Homo sapiens: one gene and its partners. The protein of the gene in region 3 purifies or fractionates together with the protein of the main gene of each other region. This does not show direct contact. Each region holds a gene or a part of one and is shown on either strand. Other genes may lie near its edges.

What was found. Proteins that work in one complex are often made in the same cells at the same time.
Region 1: the proteins of ASB3 (region 3) and KATNB1 purify together in Homo sapiens (affinity purification with mass spectrometry, with the first as the bait; 2 studies listed by BioGRID). This does not show direct contact.
Region 2: the proteins of ASB3 (region 3) and KIAA1671 purify together in Homo sapiens (affinity purification with mass spectrometry, with the first as the bait; 2 studies listed by BioGRID). This does not show direct contact.
Region 4: the proteins of ASB3 (region 3) and ZNF318 purify together in Homo sapiens (affinity purification with mass spectrometry, with the first as the bait; 2 studies listed by BioGRID). This does not show direct contact.

What each region holds. Positions count from the first base shown.
Region 1 is NC_000016.10:57,734,358-57,738,569, reverse strand, and holds the start of KATNB1 (katanin p80 WD40 repeat-containing subunit B1), read right to left. Parts: upstream 2,801-4,212; 5' UTR 2,715-2,800; intron 2,135-2,714; exon of another isoform or gene 1,926-2,134; intron 1,593-1,925; 5' UTR 1,327-1,592; coding exon 1,287-1,326; intron 1-1,286.
Region 2 is NC_000022.11:24,955,716-24,959,215, reverse strand, and holds part of KIAA1671 (uncharacterized protein KIAA1671), read right to left. Parts: intron 1-3,500.
Region 3 is NC_000002.12:53,717,378-53,721,048, reverse strand, and holds part of ASB3 (ankyrin repeat and SOCS box protein 3), read left to right. Parts: intron 1-3,671. UniProt on the Homo sapiens protein: Probable substrate-recognition component of a SCF-like ECS (Elongin-Cullin-SOCS-box protein) E3 ubiquitin-protein ligase complex which mediates the ubiquitination and subsequent proteasomal degradation of target proteins. Recognizes TNFRSF1B.
Region 4 is NC_000006.12:43,363,148-43,366,647, reverse strand, and holds part of ZNF318 (zinc finger protein 318), read left to right. Parts: intron 1-1,207; coding exon 1,208-1,356; intron 1,357-2,428; exon of another isoform or gene 2,429-3,233; intron 3,234-3,500.

The DNA.
Region 1 (4,212 bases), on a different chromosome or scaffold from region 3:
AAGTGTGGAGTCTTGGCCAGGCATGGTGGCTCATGCCTGTCATCCCAGCACTTTGGGAGGCTGAGGCACGTGGATCACCTGAGGTCAGGGGTTCGAGACGAGTCTGGCCAACATGGTGAAACCCCGTCTCTACTAAAAATACAAAAATTAGCCGGGTGTGGTGGCGGGTGCCTGTGATCCCAGCTACTCGGGAGGCTGAGGCACGAGAATCGCATGAACCCGGGAAGCAGAGGTTGCAGTGAGCTGAGATTGCACCACTGTACTCCAGCCTGGGTGACAGTGAGACTCTGTCTCAAAAAAAAAAAAAAGTGTGGAGTCTTGTCCCAGCTCCTGAAAACCAGCCCAGGGACAGCTGGCAGCAGACAGTGACCAGGTGGAGCACACAAAAGCTATGCCAACCAGTTACAATAGGTGGGGCAGGGCCCACCAAGGTGCCAATGTGTAGGGGAATTCTCAAAATATGATCTGGGGATGCTTGGGATCCTCAAGATCCTTTCGGGGGGTCTGAGAAGACAAAAGGATTTTCACAATAACACTAAGATGGCATCTGCCTTTTGCACTCTCATTTGCTCTCAAGCATATGGTGGAGTTTCCCAGAACATCACTAGAGGCCTATTTGATTATATACTCTTGTTTGAAAATGTCTCAGTATTAACTTCTAACGTGGTAAATACTGACAGATATATAACTCCAACAAACAAAAGCACTCTGGGGTCCTCAATAATTCTTAAAGTATGAAGTCTTCAGATGAAAGAGTCCAGATCCACTTGTATAGGGCAATGGTGGGAGTGGACAGTGCCCATCAGTTACAATCCGAGCCCTGTCTGCATCCCTCTGCCCGCCCCTCCTCGCTCCCACTCCTTCCCCCATCCCAGGCCCAAGATGCTTTTATCTGACTGGGGAAGTTTGACTTGTGAGATGTCTGAGAATGCTGTGAACATCTTTCAGGATTTCTCACCCCACTGTCAGCCTAACTGGAAATGCTGTGCTAAGTGCTTTAGGATGGGTTCATCCTGTCACTTGAATTTCACAGCAACCATAGAATGCAGGCGTCATCTCATTGTACATATAAGAAAACTGAGCCTCAGAGAGGTTAAGTCACCTGCCCAGTGTCACCCAGCTAAGAAGTGCCACAGTCATGATTTACATAATGGTCTATCTTACTCCCAAGTCTAGGAGTCTCCTCCTGTGCCAAGAACAGGAAACAAAGCTGTGGGTTCAGGCCTCCCAGCAACAAGCCGCTAACAGAATAAATGGGGTGATAAAGAAAAATGAAAACCACTCACGCAACTTCCAGGCTGTCTTGGTGACCACAGGGGTGGCCATCCTTCAGCTGGCTGGCACCTGAAGCCCCACCCACAAAATAAACTGTGCTTTCCTCGTGGGGTGGGGGTGGATCCCCCCCCAGATCCACCAATCAAGTTGGCAGAGAGTTCCCACACATCCAGGCAGACAGAATGCCTCGTCTTCTGGCCCTGGGGTGCCTCGTGGTTCCAAATTACCCACAGCAGCAACAGCAGCAGCCTGTGCACATCTGTCACGATCCTGGATCATGGAATGTTAGGCTCGAGCCATCTCAGCTCAATACAGGGCTGCAATACAAACAAGAGGTGACGTCATGTTAGAAAATGCTTGGTAAGAGCTGTTGCTCCCTGGATCACCAAGACCACTTGATAAAGACTGACACCCACCAAAGCCACCAGAGTCAGAAGCTGCACTGCAAATTAGGTTTGGGAATCTGCAGAGGGGGCACCTCAGGTAGGGTGATTTGGAACGTAAGGAAAAAGAAACTCCTCCCAGAGGCCAGGATAATGAGCTGCAGCTCTGTTCCGGGATGCTGGCTGCCTAAAGTGCAGCAGCCGCAGTGGGGCGGAGAAGACCACGTGTCTGCAATTCACATAGATTTCCTGCGAGTCGTTGTTTTTGTCTGACGTGTGGGATGTGGGAGAGCGGAGTCAGAAGCTAAGCTTAGGGGCCTAGGAAAGGCATCCCAGAGACGGCCACTGAAGTCCTCCTTGGAAAGAATCTCGAAGACGACCCTGATGGTCCAATTCCCCAGCTCCTGGCAAGGGAACCGCTCCTGCTCCCTGCGATTCCCAAGGACAGAGCTAGGAACTAGGCCTCCAGTCTGGGCGTAAGTGGCTATGACTCTTCAACTCTAAAAGGCCTCCTCATGGAGCCTCCCACCTCCTTCCCACAGCCACTTCACCTCTTTCCCATGAGCCCGCTCCCCTCCGTCCCCTTTCTCCTGGGTCCCCGGGTCTGCCTCTCTAGTCCTCCGTTCACACCCCCTTTTCTCCCTGCCCCCTGAGTCTCCCACTTATGCACATCCTGTCTCCCGATATCCCTCACGTGGCCCCTGCCTCGCCAGACTCCCGTTACTGCCCTTTCCCATATGCTCGCGGGGTCTCCCATTCATTCATTCTCCTACTTCTCTTCTCCCTATTCATTACCTGTCCTTCTGCAGACCCCCAGCTCTGCTTCCGGCCTCCCTGGTTTTGCCCCCTCCGGCCTCCACCCCGACCCCTCTCGTCCGGGGGCGGGGGCAGGTCCCTCGGCCACGGCTGATCCTCCCAACCCTCTGCTTGCGGAGTACGGGCTCTAGCCTCCCCACGCTCAGAGCTCTCTGCCCGCAAGCCCAGCCAGCCCCGCCTGGCTCGGCCCAGCCCAGGGCCCACCGTCCCCTCGCCACCTCGTCCCCTTGCCCACTCCACCTGCAGCTGCGGCTCCGGAGGCCGAGGCTCCGCTCCAGGCGCGACCCCCACTTGCCTCCATCCCCTGCCTTGATTGGCCGCTGCTTGACAACCGACCCTCACAACAAAACCTCCGGCTCAGAGCCCCGCCCACCTTGCCTCCCGCACCAATCAGCTGCCGCGGGTGCTCCGCCTCCTGCCAGGACTGACCAATGGAAGCAGGCGCTTCTGCCGCTTTTCCTCAGTACCCGCCCTCTTTTCCTAAATAGGACTAATCAAGAGGAAGGAACGTTCAAGAGCCGCCCCTTGGCCTCTAATAAACCAATGCAAGCTGCCGTTTCCTTAGTCCCGCCTCCGTCTCAAGTTTTCCCTTTCCTCTCCGTTTCCTCCCTCGAACCTAATTTGTGTCTGAAAACTTTTGAGAGCCGCCCTCCAATGGCGGCTGCGCCAATGGCTTGAGCAACCGTCCTGGATTGACCAATCAGCGTCCGCATTATTGGAAAACTCAATTCCCAGATAGCCAATGGGAAAGGAACTTCGGGGGCAGTGTGAAGCCTCAGGCCTTCCATCTTGGAGTGGGGCAAAACCTAAGGAGGCCTTAGTCGGCATTTTGCCGAAGCTCCTCATTCTTCACTTTGCCTGCAGATGGTCCCCCGTGGCAGGAGGACTTTGTCCCTGTTCTTTGACCCGGACGCCGGCTTGAATCCCCCATGGGAGGTCTAGAAGGAAACAGCCTGATTCCGGAGCCGAGGCAGGCGCTGAACCCTGTAGCACTGCACACGCAGCCACCGCCTCGACTAATGGATGCGTGGGCAAGGGGCTGCTCCCTGAATGGCTGCAATCAGGGAATCGGAGAAAGGCCAGCTTTATTTGTGACACGTTGGGCGGGGTGGGCTCTGGGAAGCGCCGTAACCCTTCTCGACTCAGGGCCTCTCGCGTGGCCGCTTAGGAGGGACTTGGCCCCGCAGCCGCCTCTCCCTGTTGCCCAGAGGTTGTCCCAGGCACCCAGAGCCCCTCGAACCTTGCCCTTCGGCCTCCAGCCTCTCACCGCAGGTCAGGGCTCCTTGGGCTCACATAACGCCCAGTACAACCATAAGAGGTAGGAATTCCTGTTCCCATTTACAGATGAGGAAACTGAGGCCCGGGTTAAGATGCTTGCAGAAAACCACACGGTCAGAAAGTAATAGCCCCAGAATTCGAACCCTTGTTCTGAAAGCCAAAGCGTGGGGGAGTCCCCACTCTGCCTTCTGCTTCAGCCTTCTGCTTCAGATTCTCCTGCTTCAGCCTCCTGGGTAGCTGGAACCACAGGCGCCCGCCACCACGACGGGCTAAGGCTAGTTTTTATATTTTTAGTAGAGACGGGGTTTCTCCATTTTGGCCAGGCTGGTCTTGAACTCCTGACCTTAGGTGATCCACCCGCCCCAGCCTCCCGAAGTGCTGGGATTACAGGCGTGAGTCACCGCAAGACACCTTTAAAAGATTAGCAGAATAACATCGGATCAAAACTGTCTAGCCTGCA
Region 2 (3,500 bases), on a different chromosome or scaffold from region 3:
TTTATTTTTAATTTTAATTTTTTAAATTTTTATGTATTTATGTATTTATTTATTTGAGACAAGGACTCACTCTGTCTCAGGCTAAAGTGCAGTGGTGCAATCAAAGCTCACTGCAGCATCGAACTCCTGAGCTCAAGCAATGCTCCTGTCTCAGCCTCTGAATTAGATGGGACACAGCCTGACACACTGCCAGGCTAATTTTTTTTCTTTTCTTTTCTTTTTTTTTTTTTTTTTTGATACGAAGTTTTGTTCTATCGTTCAGGCTGGAGTGCAGTGGCACAATCTCGGCTCAGGGCAACCTCCACCTCCCAGGTTCAAGCAGTCTGCTGCCTCAGCCTCCCAAGTAGCTGGGATTACAGGCATGTGCCACCATACCTGGCTATTTTTTTGTTTTGTTTTGTATTTTCAGTAGAGAGAGGGTTTTTCCATGTTGGCTAGGCTAATCTTGAACTCCTGACCTCAGGTGATTCACCTGCCTCTGCCTCCGAAAGTGCTGGAATTACAGGTGTGAGCCACTGTGCCTGACCGCCAGACTAATTTTTAACCTTTTTTTTTTTTTTTTTAAGAGACAGAGTCTTGCTCTGTCACCCAGGCTGGATTGCAATGGCATGATCTCAGGTCACCACACCCTCCACCTCCGGGGTTCAAGGGATTCTCCTGCCTCAGCCTCCCGAGTAGCTGGGATTACAGGTGCCCCACCACCACGCCTGGCTGATTTTTGTATTTTTAGTAGAGACGGGGTTTCACCATGTTGGCCAGGCTGCTCTCGAACTCCTGACCTCAGGTGATCCGCCCACCTCAGCCTCCCAAAGTGCTGAGATTACAGGCGTGAGCCACCTCACCCGGTCTTAAATTGTTTTTTCAGAGACAGTCTCGCTATGTTGCCCAGGCTGGTCTCAAACTCCTGGGCTCAAGCAATACTCCCATCTCAGCCTCCCAAAGCGCTGGGATTACAGACAGGAGCCACTGTGCTTGGCCTTAGCTTCTTCTTAAATGGCAGCAGTTTGAGTAGTGAGACTAGGCAGAAGCACCCCTCCTTGTGTTGGGAGCCATGCAAGTGGGAAGGGCATGGCTTTGAGGCAGACAGCTTTGGGTTCAAATCCCAGCTCTTCCACTTTCCCGCTGCGTGACCTCGCAGCACATCAATAACCTCTTGAAGCCTCAGTTTCATGAACTGTAAAGTCGAGGGTCTCAAAAACAGGCACCACCTGGGTTTGTTGTAAAATATTAAAAAAAAAAAAAAAAAAAAAGGCCGGGTGCCTGTAATCCCAGCACTTTGGGAGGCCGAGGTGGGTGGATCACATGAGGTCGAGAGTTCGAGACCAGCCTGACCAACATGGAGAAACCCTGTCTCTAATAAAAATAACAAAATTAGCCAGGCGTGGTGGCACATGCCTGTAATCCCAGCTACTCGGGAGGCTGAGATAGGAGAATCACTTGAACCCAGGAGGTGGAGGCTGCAGTAAGCCGAGATCCTGCCATTGCACTCCAGCATGGGCAATAAGAGCAAAACTCCGTCTCAAAAAAAAAAAAAAAAAAAAAAAGGAACAAAAGAGCTTAGCCCAGATTCTGGCATAACAGCGCAGCTCTGATGCACTATGTGCTTTACCTACATTCTCCCCAGTCCTCCCATTTTACAGAGGAAGAAACTGAGGTCCCGGGGGGACATGGCTTATCTAGGTTCACACTCCTATAATCTGGATGGGTGAGTGGAAGAAGGAGAGTGAACTCCTGGACAGGGATGCTCCTGCCCTCCTCTCTGTCCCAAACCTGCCAAAGCCTTCAGGTTTAGAAATTCAGGGAGTGTCTGGGGTATAAAAGGAATTTTTGCTGCCCATGGTCTAACTTTTATTCATTCAGCACATCCTGAATTCTGGGTATATCAGTTGGCATGCAGTTCTCCAGGCGATCTATGCCTTTGCCAGTGCTGTTGCTTCTGCCTGGAATGTCCCAGCCCTCCCTCCTACTCATCCTTTAAGACTCAAGTATCACCTGTGGGTCACTCCCTCTCTCCCCCCAACACACACAGGCACACACCAGGTTGAGCAAAGCACCACCCACCTGGAACTTATCCTGATGACAGGCTATAGTGATAATAATCATACCACCCCTTACAGAGCATAGACACGGGGCCTAGCACTGTCCATACACTGCTTCAGTAAACTCACATAAGAACCTTTTGAGAATGGGAGTATCCTATCATGAGCCCTTTTTACAGATAGGGAAGTCGAGTCTCAAAACCATAACCATGCCCAAGGCCACAGCCAGGAGCAGGCAGGGCCAGGGTTTGCCCTGGACTATCTCTGGCTGATTCCCTCCCTCCCTTCTTTTTTTTTTTTTTTTTGAGACAGAGTCTCGCTCTCTCGCCCAGGCTGGAGTGCAGTGGCACTATCTCGGCTCACTGTAAGCTCCGCCTCGCCAGTTCACGCCATTCTCCTGCCTCAGCCTCCCAGGTAGCTGGGACTACAGGCACCCGCCACCACGCCCGGCTAATTTTTTGTTTTCGTATTTTTAGTAGACACGGGGTTTCACCGTGTTAGCCAGGATGGTCTCGATCTCCTGATCTCGTGATCCATCCGCCTCGGCCTCTCAAAGTGCTGGGATTACAGGCGTGAGCCACCACGCCCGGCTGGCTGGCTCCCTCCCTTCTATCTGCCTCCTCCGGGAAGGCTCCTTCAATTTATCCCTTCCACACCCAACTGAAACCCACCTTCCTCTGTTGCTTCTCTACGGCTTAACCTGAACCCAAATATTCACTAGTTGCAAGTTGGAAGGGAGTTCAAATTCCTGCTTTGCCACTGCTGCCTGGCAAACGCCTCACAATGCCACAGAGGCCTGCATCAGTGAAATGGGAATAATGTGCCCCATGTCTCCCCACAGGAAGTCCTTGAGGACTGGCATGTTTTATACCTACCCCTGAACAGGCACAGGGTTCTAAAGCAGGTTTGCTAAACTGAATTCAGTACTGATACCACTCCCTCTGAGGGGTTTCCTTACCCCAGGTAGACTGTTACACCCACCTTGAGGAAGGGATCTTCAAAGTGAGTGGCTCTCTAAATGTAACACTGATCAATGTCAAAGTTGTCAGTGAACACCCCTCCAACACCATTGGTCTCTACGTCCAGTCCACCGCGCACCGCGGTCTCTCACCAGGATTTTTCTTTTTTCTTTTCTTTTTTTTTTTTTTTTTTGAGACGGAGTCTCACTCTGTCGCCCAGGCTGGAGTGCAGTGGCATGATCTTGCTTCACTGCAAGCTCCGCCTCCCCGGTTCATGCCATTCTCCTGCCTCAGCCTCCCAAGTAGCCAGGAGAACAGGCACCTGCCCCATGCCTGGCTAATTTTTTTGTATTTTTAGTAGAGATGGGGTTTCACCATGTTAGCCAGGATGGTCTCGATCTCCTGACCTCGTGATCGTCCTGCCTTGGCCTCCCAAAGTGCTGGGATTACAGGCGTGAGCCACCGCGCCTGGCCTCTCACCTGGATTTTTCTAGCAGCCTGC
Region 3 (3,671 bases):
CCTCCTGGTTCAAGCAATTCTCCTGCCTCAGCCTCCTGAGTACCTGGGATTACAGGCGCGCACCCCTGTGGCCAGCTAATTTTTTTGTATTTTTAGTAGAGATGGGGTTTCATCGTGTTGGCCAATTTGGTCTCAAACTCCTGACCTTCAAGTGATCTGCCCATCTCGGCCTCACAAGTGAATCAGTTTTTTAAATTTATTGAGATGTGCTTTTTGGCCGAGCATGTGGTCTGTCTTGGAGTATGTTATATGTGCTGTTGAGAAGAATATATATTCTGTGGTTGATGAGTGGAGTGTTCTTTAGATGTGTATTAGGTCCAATTGGTCAAATGTTGAATTTACACCCAGAATTTGTTTTTTAATTTTCTGCCTCAGTGATCTGTCTAATGCTGTCAATGGGATTTGACATCTCCCAACATTATTGCTATCTCTATAGATCTCTAAGAGCTTGTTTTATGAAACTGGATGCTTCAATGTTGGGTGTGTGTATATTTAGGATAGTTAAGTCTTCTCATTGAATTGAACCCTTTATCATTATGTAATTACCTTCTTTGTCCTTTTGTACTGTTGTTGGTTTTTTTATATATAATTTTTTCTTGAATAGAAATGGGGTCTCACTGTGTTGCTGTGAACCCCAAATATCTGAGAGAGATCTCAGTCAATTTAGGAAGTTTATTTTGCCAACATTAAGGGCATGTGCCTGTGACACAGCCTCAGGAGGTCCTGGCAACATATGCCCAAAGTGGTTGGGGCACAACTTGGTTTTATACGTTTTATACATGAGACATCAATCAACATATATAAGATATACATTGGTTCTGTCTGGAAAAGCGGGACAACTCAAAGTGGGGAGAGTATGTCCAGGTCATAGGTAGGTAGGAGACAAATGGTTGCCTTTTTTTTTTTTTTTGAGTTTCTGATTAGCCTTTCCAAAGGAGGCACTCAGATATGCACTTATCCCAGTGAGCAGAGGGATGACTTTGAGTTTGAGTTCTGTCTGTCCTTCGTCCACAGGGAAATTCCTTGTGAGGGAGGTACGTAACTTTTTCTAATCTTAGTAGCTATTTTTTAGGAATAGAATAGGAGGCAGGGTTGCGCTAAGCAGTTCCCAGCTTGACTTTTCCCTTTGGCTTAGTGATTGTGGGGGTCCCAAGATTTATTTTCCTTTCACATTGCCCTGGCTGGTCTTGAACTCCTGAGCTCAAGCGATCCTCCCCCCTTGTAAGAGTTAAAGAAAGAGGAAAGAAACACAAAAGATGGGTTGGCAGTTAAAGACAGGTTTACTTTAGATAAAACCTGAGAAGGGTTTCTGGCTGATTTCGATCAGGAGCACTTTCTCTTACAGGCTAAGTACATGAGTATATATTGGTTTTAGGGTGAGGGGGCTTATCACAAGCTTGGAGTGTTTATGTGTGGGGGAGAAGTTTATGGTGAGGTTGGAATGTCTCTGGGTGAAGGGGGGATTATCTTGGGGCTGACGTCTTTCTAGAAGGAAGGGAGTTATCTCGGGGCTGGCATCTTCCCAGCCAGAGCAGGGCAGCTAGCATGTCTCTGGTCGCAGAGGAGTTTGGCATGTTCCTGGTCGGAGATGCTTTTTTTGTTTATGATCATGCTGATCTTAGCCATTTAGGCTGATGCGCTTTGGATTTAGGAAGTTTTTGATTAAGGTGAATTGGAAAATAACAGTGCTTGTGCAAGATGGTGATACTCCTGCTCTGTCATACTTCGGCCTCTCAAAGCTCTGGGCTTATAGGCGTGAGCCACTGTGCCTGGCTCTGTTGTCTGATTTAAAGTCTGTTTTATCTGATATAAGAATATTGACCCCTGGTTGGGCGTGGTGGCTCACGCCTGTAATCCCAGCACTTTGGGAGGCCGAGGTGGGTGGATCACGAGGTCAAGAGATCAAGACCATCCTGGCCAACATGGTGAAACCCCGTCTCTATCTGCTAAAAATACAAAAATCAGCTGGGCGTGGTAGTGCATGCCTGTAGTCCCAGCTACTCGGGAGGCTGAGGCAGGAGAATTGCTTGAACCCAGGAGGCAGAGGTTGCAGTAAGCCGAGATCGCACCATTGCACTCCAGCCTGGCGACACGGCGAGACTCAGTCTCAAAAATAAAATAAAATAAAATAAAAAACTAGTGACCCCTGACCTTTTTTGTTTTCCATTTGGTTGATAAATCTTTTTTCAACCCTTTACTTTGAGCCTATGGGTGTTGTTACATGTGAGACGTGTCTCTTGAAGGCAGCAGATGGATGGGTCTTTTTTCTTTCTTTTTTTTTTTTTAATCCAAATTGCAGCTGTGTGCCTTTTAGGCAGGATGTTTCGTAAAAGGCGAAAGATTTGTATGATCTGAAGAGACCCTTTACATTCAAGGTTAATATTGATATGTGAGGTTTTGATCCTATTATTAAGTTGGTAGATGGTTGCTTTGCAGTTTCTATTGTATGATTGTATTATGGGGTCTTTGGGCTATGTACTTCAGTGTGTTTTTGTGGTATCAGTGTTGTTCTTTCATTTCCATGTTTAAAAGTCCCTTAAGGATCTCTGCTAAGACTGGTCTAGTGGTAACAAATTGTCTTATCGCTTGCTTGTCTGTAAAATATTTTATTTCTCCTTCGTTTGTGAAGCTTAGTTTGGTGGAATATGAAATTCTTGGTTGTAGTGTCCTCTCTTTAAGAATGCTGAAAATAGACCCCCAATCTCTCTTGCCTTGTAAGGTTTCTGCTGAGAAGTCCACTGTTCCTTTTGTATGTGATCTGACGTTTTTCTCTAGCTGCCTGTAAGATTTTTTCTTTAGTGTTAACCTTCAACAGTCTGGTGACTGTATGCCATGGTGATATTCACGTTCACAGAGAGTTCTCTGTATTGCTTCTATCTGGATGTCTTCCTCTCTGGCAAGATTAGGGAAATTTTCTTAAATTATGTCCTCAAATATGTTTTCCAGGTCATTTACTTTTTCTCCTTCTCTCTCAGGAATACCAATAATTCATAGATTTGGTTGCTTTACATTATCAAATATTTCTCAAAGCCTTTTTCATTAAAAATTTTTTATTTTTATTTTTATCTGACTGGGTTAGTTTGAAAGACTGATCTTCAAGCTCCAAAATTCTTCCTTCTGCTTGGCCTAGTCTATTAATAAAACTTGCAGTTATATTTTGAAATTCCTTAAGTGAGTTTTTCAATTCCAGAAGCTCTGATTGATTCCTTTTTAAGATGTTTATCTTAAGATGCCTTCATTTCCTGAATTGCTTTAGAAGTTTCTTTGTGTTTATTTTCAACCTTGTCTGGATCTTGTTGAGCTTCCTTGCAATCCTTGCTTTGAATTCTTTATCTGTCATTTCTGAGTTTCCATTTGGGTCAGGAACCATTGCGGGAACACGACTGTGATCCTTCAGTGGTGTCACTATATTTAGATTTTTCACAAATCCAAAATTCTTGGGGTAGTTCCTTTTCATCTGGAGATGTTCACACTTCTAATTTTTGTAATTATTTTCATGCAGGTGGGATTTTTTTCTTTTTCTTTCTTTCACTATAATATTATTGTTTTTCCCTTTCACATTTATGATTTTAAATATCAACTCAGAAACCTGTTGAAAGAGACCCTTTTTCTCTGATTGTAGGCATTATTTATCATGCAGTGGTTATGAAGAAAGAGATGTAATAGAGAGT
Region 4 (3,500 bases), on a different chromosome or scaffold from region 3:
AAAAAATGTTTTGGTGTGGGGAGGGATTTCACTATGTTGCCCAGGCTGGTCTCAAACTCCTGGCCTCAAGTGATTCTCCTGCCTCAGCCTCCCAAAATGCTGGGCTTACAGGCATAAGCTACCATGCCTGGCCCGGGGAGTTAAAATTTTTGAGAGTAGTCAGGGAAGGCCTCCTGGGAAGGTGATTTTTGAATAAAGATCTGAAGGAGGTGAGGGTGTGCTGTGCAAGCATCTGGAGGAAAAATGTAGTCAGATGATGTCACTATCCTGTGTAAAACCCTCCTATAACTGTTAATTGCACTAAGAATAAAATCCAAATTTCCCAACTGTGCTTTCTGCCTATCTTTTCCTCTTCTGTCACTTTGCTGCAGCCACACCGGCCGCTTTTCTGTTACTTAAAGTATACCAAGCTCTATACTGAGGTGGTTCTTTTCTTTGCCTGAAACATCTTTCTACCTGTTCTTTGCAAAGCTGACACCTCATTCTTCAGGCCTCAGGTTATCACCTGAGAAAAACCTTTTCTAACCATCCTATCTGAAGTAACTCCTTTTATGGTACCATGTTTTAATGACTATAGCACTTACCAGAAGAATTTTTTTTTTCTTTAAACTTGTTTTTGGCTTACCTCCTTCACTAGAAGTATGTACACTAGAAGTAGGGTTCTGAGAGCAGGGACTTTATTCACTTCTCTTTTCCCATGCCCAGTAAGAATGAGAGGTCACCGTTTAGGAGAGTTAGAGGTATGGGCTTATATCTCTAAGAAAATGATAATTTTTAAAAAGTGCTTTATTTTTGGTATAGTGTCTTACCATAACCATTTCTCACCTTGTTGAACCCCAACTTTGCAGGGTTGTCTTTTGTTTTTGAGACAAGGTCCTGCTCATTGCCCAGGCTGAAGTGCTGTGGTGCAGTCATGGCTCACTGCAGCCCTGACCTCCCAAGCTTAAGCTATCCTCCCACCTCAGCCACCTGAGTAGTTGGGACCACACCTGGCTAATTTTAAACTTTTTTTTATAGAGATGGAGTCTGTGTTGCCCAGACTGGTCTCACATTCTTGCCTGGGCCTATACACCTCAGCCTCCCAAAGTGTTGGGTATACAGGCATGAGCCACCATGCCTGGCTAACTTTGTAACTAGGGAGGAGAGTTTTTGGATGTAGGGATGTCTTGACCCTATTGACTAACCATATTATCCTTTACTTTTGTAGAGACGCTCTCCTGGTCTGTGTTCTGACTCTTTGGAAAAGAGCTTAAGGATCACTGTTGGCAATGACCACTTCTGTGTTAGCACACCAGAACGGCGACGGCTTAGTGATCGGCTGGGGTCACCAGTGGATAATCTGGAAGACATGGACAGGTAGGCATCACCTAAGGCAGGGCCTACTATACTAGTACTTGAAGGCAGAAATGTTGCTGTTTTCCGAATGATATATTTGAAAGGATGGTGCCAGCTCTAAAGTTATTTCCTATGCCACATGTCCAGTACAAAATAAAACGCTGGGATAGAATTTCTAAGTGGGAGGAGTATAATGATGTGTAGACTCTGTTGTTGAATAAATTGTATAGAAAAAAAGACTTTAAAAAGGTCATCTGAGTCTGACTAGAAAGAAGAGGCTGAGGGGACATAATCAGAGTCCCCCAAATGAAGAACAGTTGAGATGGTATAGATTCTAAAACAGTGAAACTATGAGCAGTCCCTTCTCCAAAGAAAAGTTCTGGACAAAATGGGAAGTCTTTTTAAAATGGTGTTATTTTTTAGTTTATCCAGGCTGAAACAGATTCAGAAAGGGTTAGGTAAGTTCATGTCTAATATATGTGTGTATGTGAAGTAGATAAAGTATTAATAGAAAGCTAGAGACCTTCAAAAATGTTTAAGTTCAGTTATTATTTTACAACTATTGAGTGCTGAGGAAGGGTAGATACACTCAAGAGAGTTGGATATAGACCTCAGGTACTAGGAACTTAACCATATATAGATTGTAAATAATCACATTAGGTGTTTTTCACCTCACAAAAGTCAAAGTATGGATGGGAGTTCAGGAAAGCACTCTTTCTCAGAGCTGAGACCATGACTGTTATGGTCTCTGCCCAGCACATTGGGAGTTTTGACAAATGATTAGCAGTAGCAATAAATCAATGTAATGTAATTTCAAACTGAGACTGTCGCTTGCCGTGTTGCACAGAGCATAGCTAGGCGGGTGGGGGAGAGCTGGGCAGGAAGTCTGAGGACCAGTTTTGCCGTTGGTAATACCTAAAAGTTCCATTGGCTGTGGATGCAGTGAAGCAAGGCAGAACAGTCTTTTTTTTTTTTTTTTTTCAGGCTTAATTCACTTTATATTTCTTGTATAAAAACCCTATGTTGTAGCCACAGCTGGAGCCTACGTCCTCTGCACAGAGACTCTGGTGTGTGTCTTGATGAGGTGGTCAGTGAATTCCTGATAGGGAGACTTGGTGAATCCTGTCTCCTTCCAGAGGTCGGGGGTCAGGTAGCTGTAGGTCTTAGAGATGGCATCAAAGGTGGCCTTGGCGAAGTTGCCCAGGGTGGCAGTGCAGCCCCTGGCTGAGGTGTAGCAGTCATCAATACCAGCCATCATGAGCAGCTTCTTGGGCACGGGCTGAGACGATGCCAGTGCCCTTGGGCGCAGGGATGAGGTGCACCAGCACAGAGCCGCAGTAGCCTGTCACCTTGCAAGGAACGGTGTGGGGCTTGTGGATCTTGTTCCCCCAGTAGCCTCTGTGCACAGGGAGAATGGAGAGCTTGGCCAGGATGATGGCCCCGCAGGTGGCAGTGGCCACCTCCTTGGAGCACTTAACACCCAGACCGACGTGGCCATTGTAGTCCCCGATGGCAACAAACGCCTTGAACCTTTTCAACTGGCCAGTGTGGGTCTGCTTCTGCACTGGCATAATCTTCAACACCTCATCCTTGAGAGAGGCCCCCAGGAAAAAGTCAGTGATCTCAGATTCCTTGATGGGCAGGAAGAAGAGGTAGTTCTCCAGGGACTTGATCTTTATGTCCTTAACCAAGCAGCCCAGCTTGGTGACAGGCATCCACTCCTTATCCTTGGCCTTGCCTCCACGAGCTCCGTGGCCTCAGCCCTGTCCACAGCTGCAACCCCAGCCCCTCCATGGAAGCCACCACGGTTTCCCATCCCAGGGCCCCCGGGGCCTCTGCCCCCGCCCCACCCCCTCCACCGACATCATCTGCCATTTGGTGTTTTCTCAGAGAAGAAGCAAGGCAAAATAGTCTTATGTCATATAACATTGAAGCTTCTAAAGGGCTTCAAGATATGTGACTGTATCACTTAATTGAGGCAATAGCCCTTGCTCTTCTGGCTGCTTCTGTTTGGGGAAATTATTGAGTAGGTAGTCTGGGTAGGTGGTACATAGTGTGATTGTCTTCATTCTTTGCTGAGGTTTTGAGTTAGCTTCAGCAGTTCTTCTTAGGCCTAGGATGTCACTTCCCCTTTGCATAAACTTTGTTATGCACATGTGCTTCAG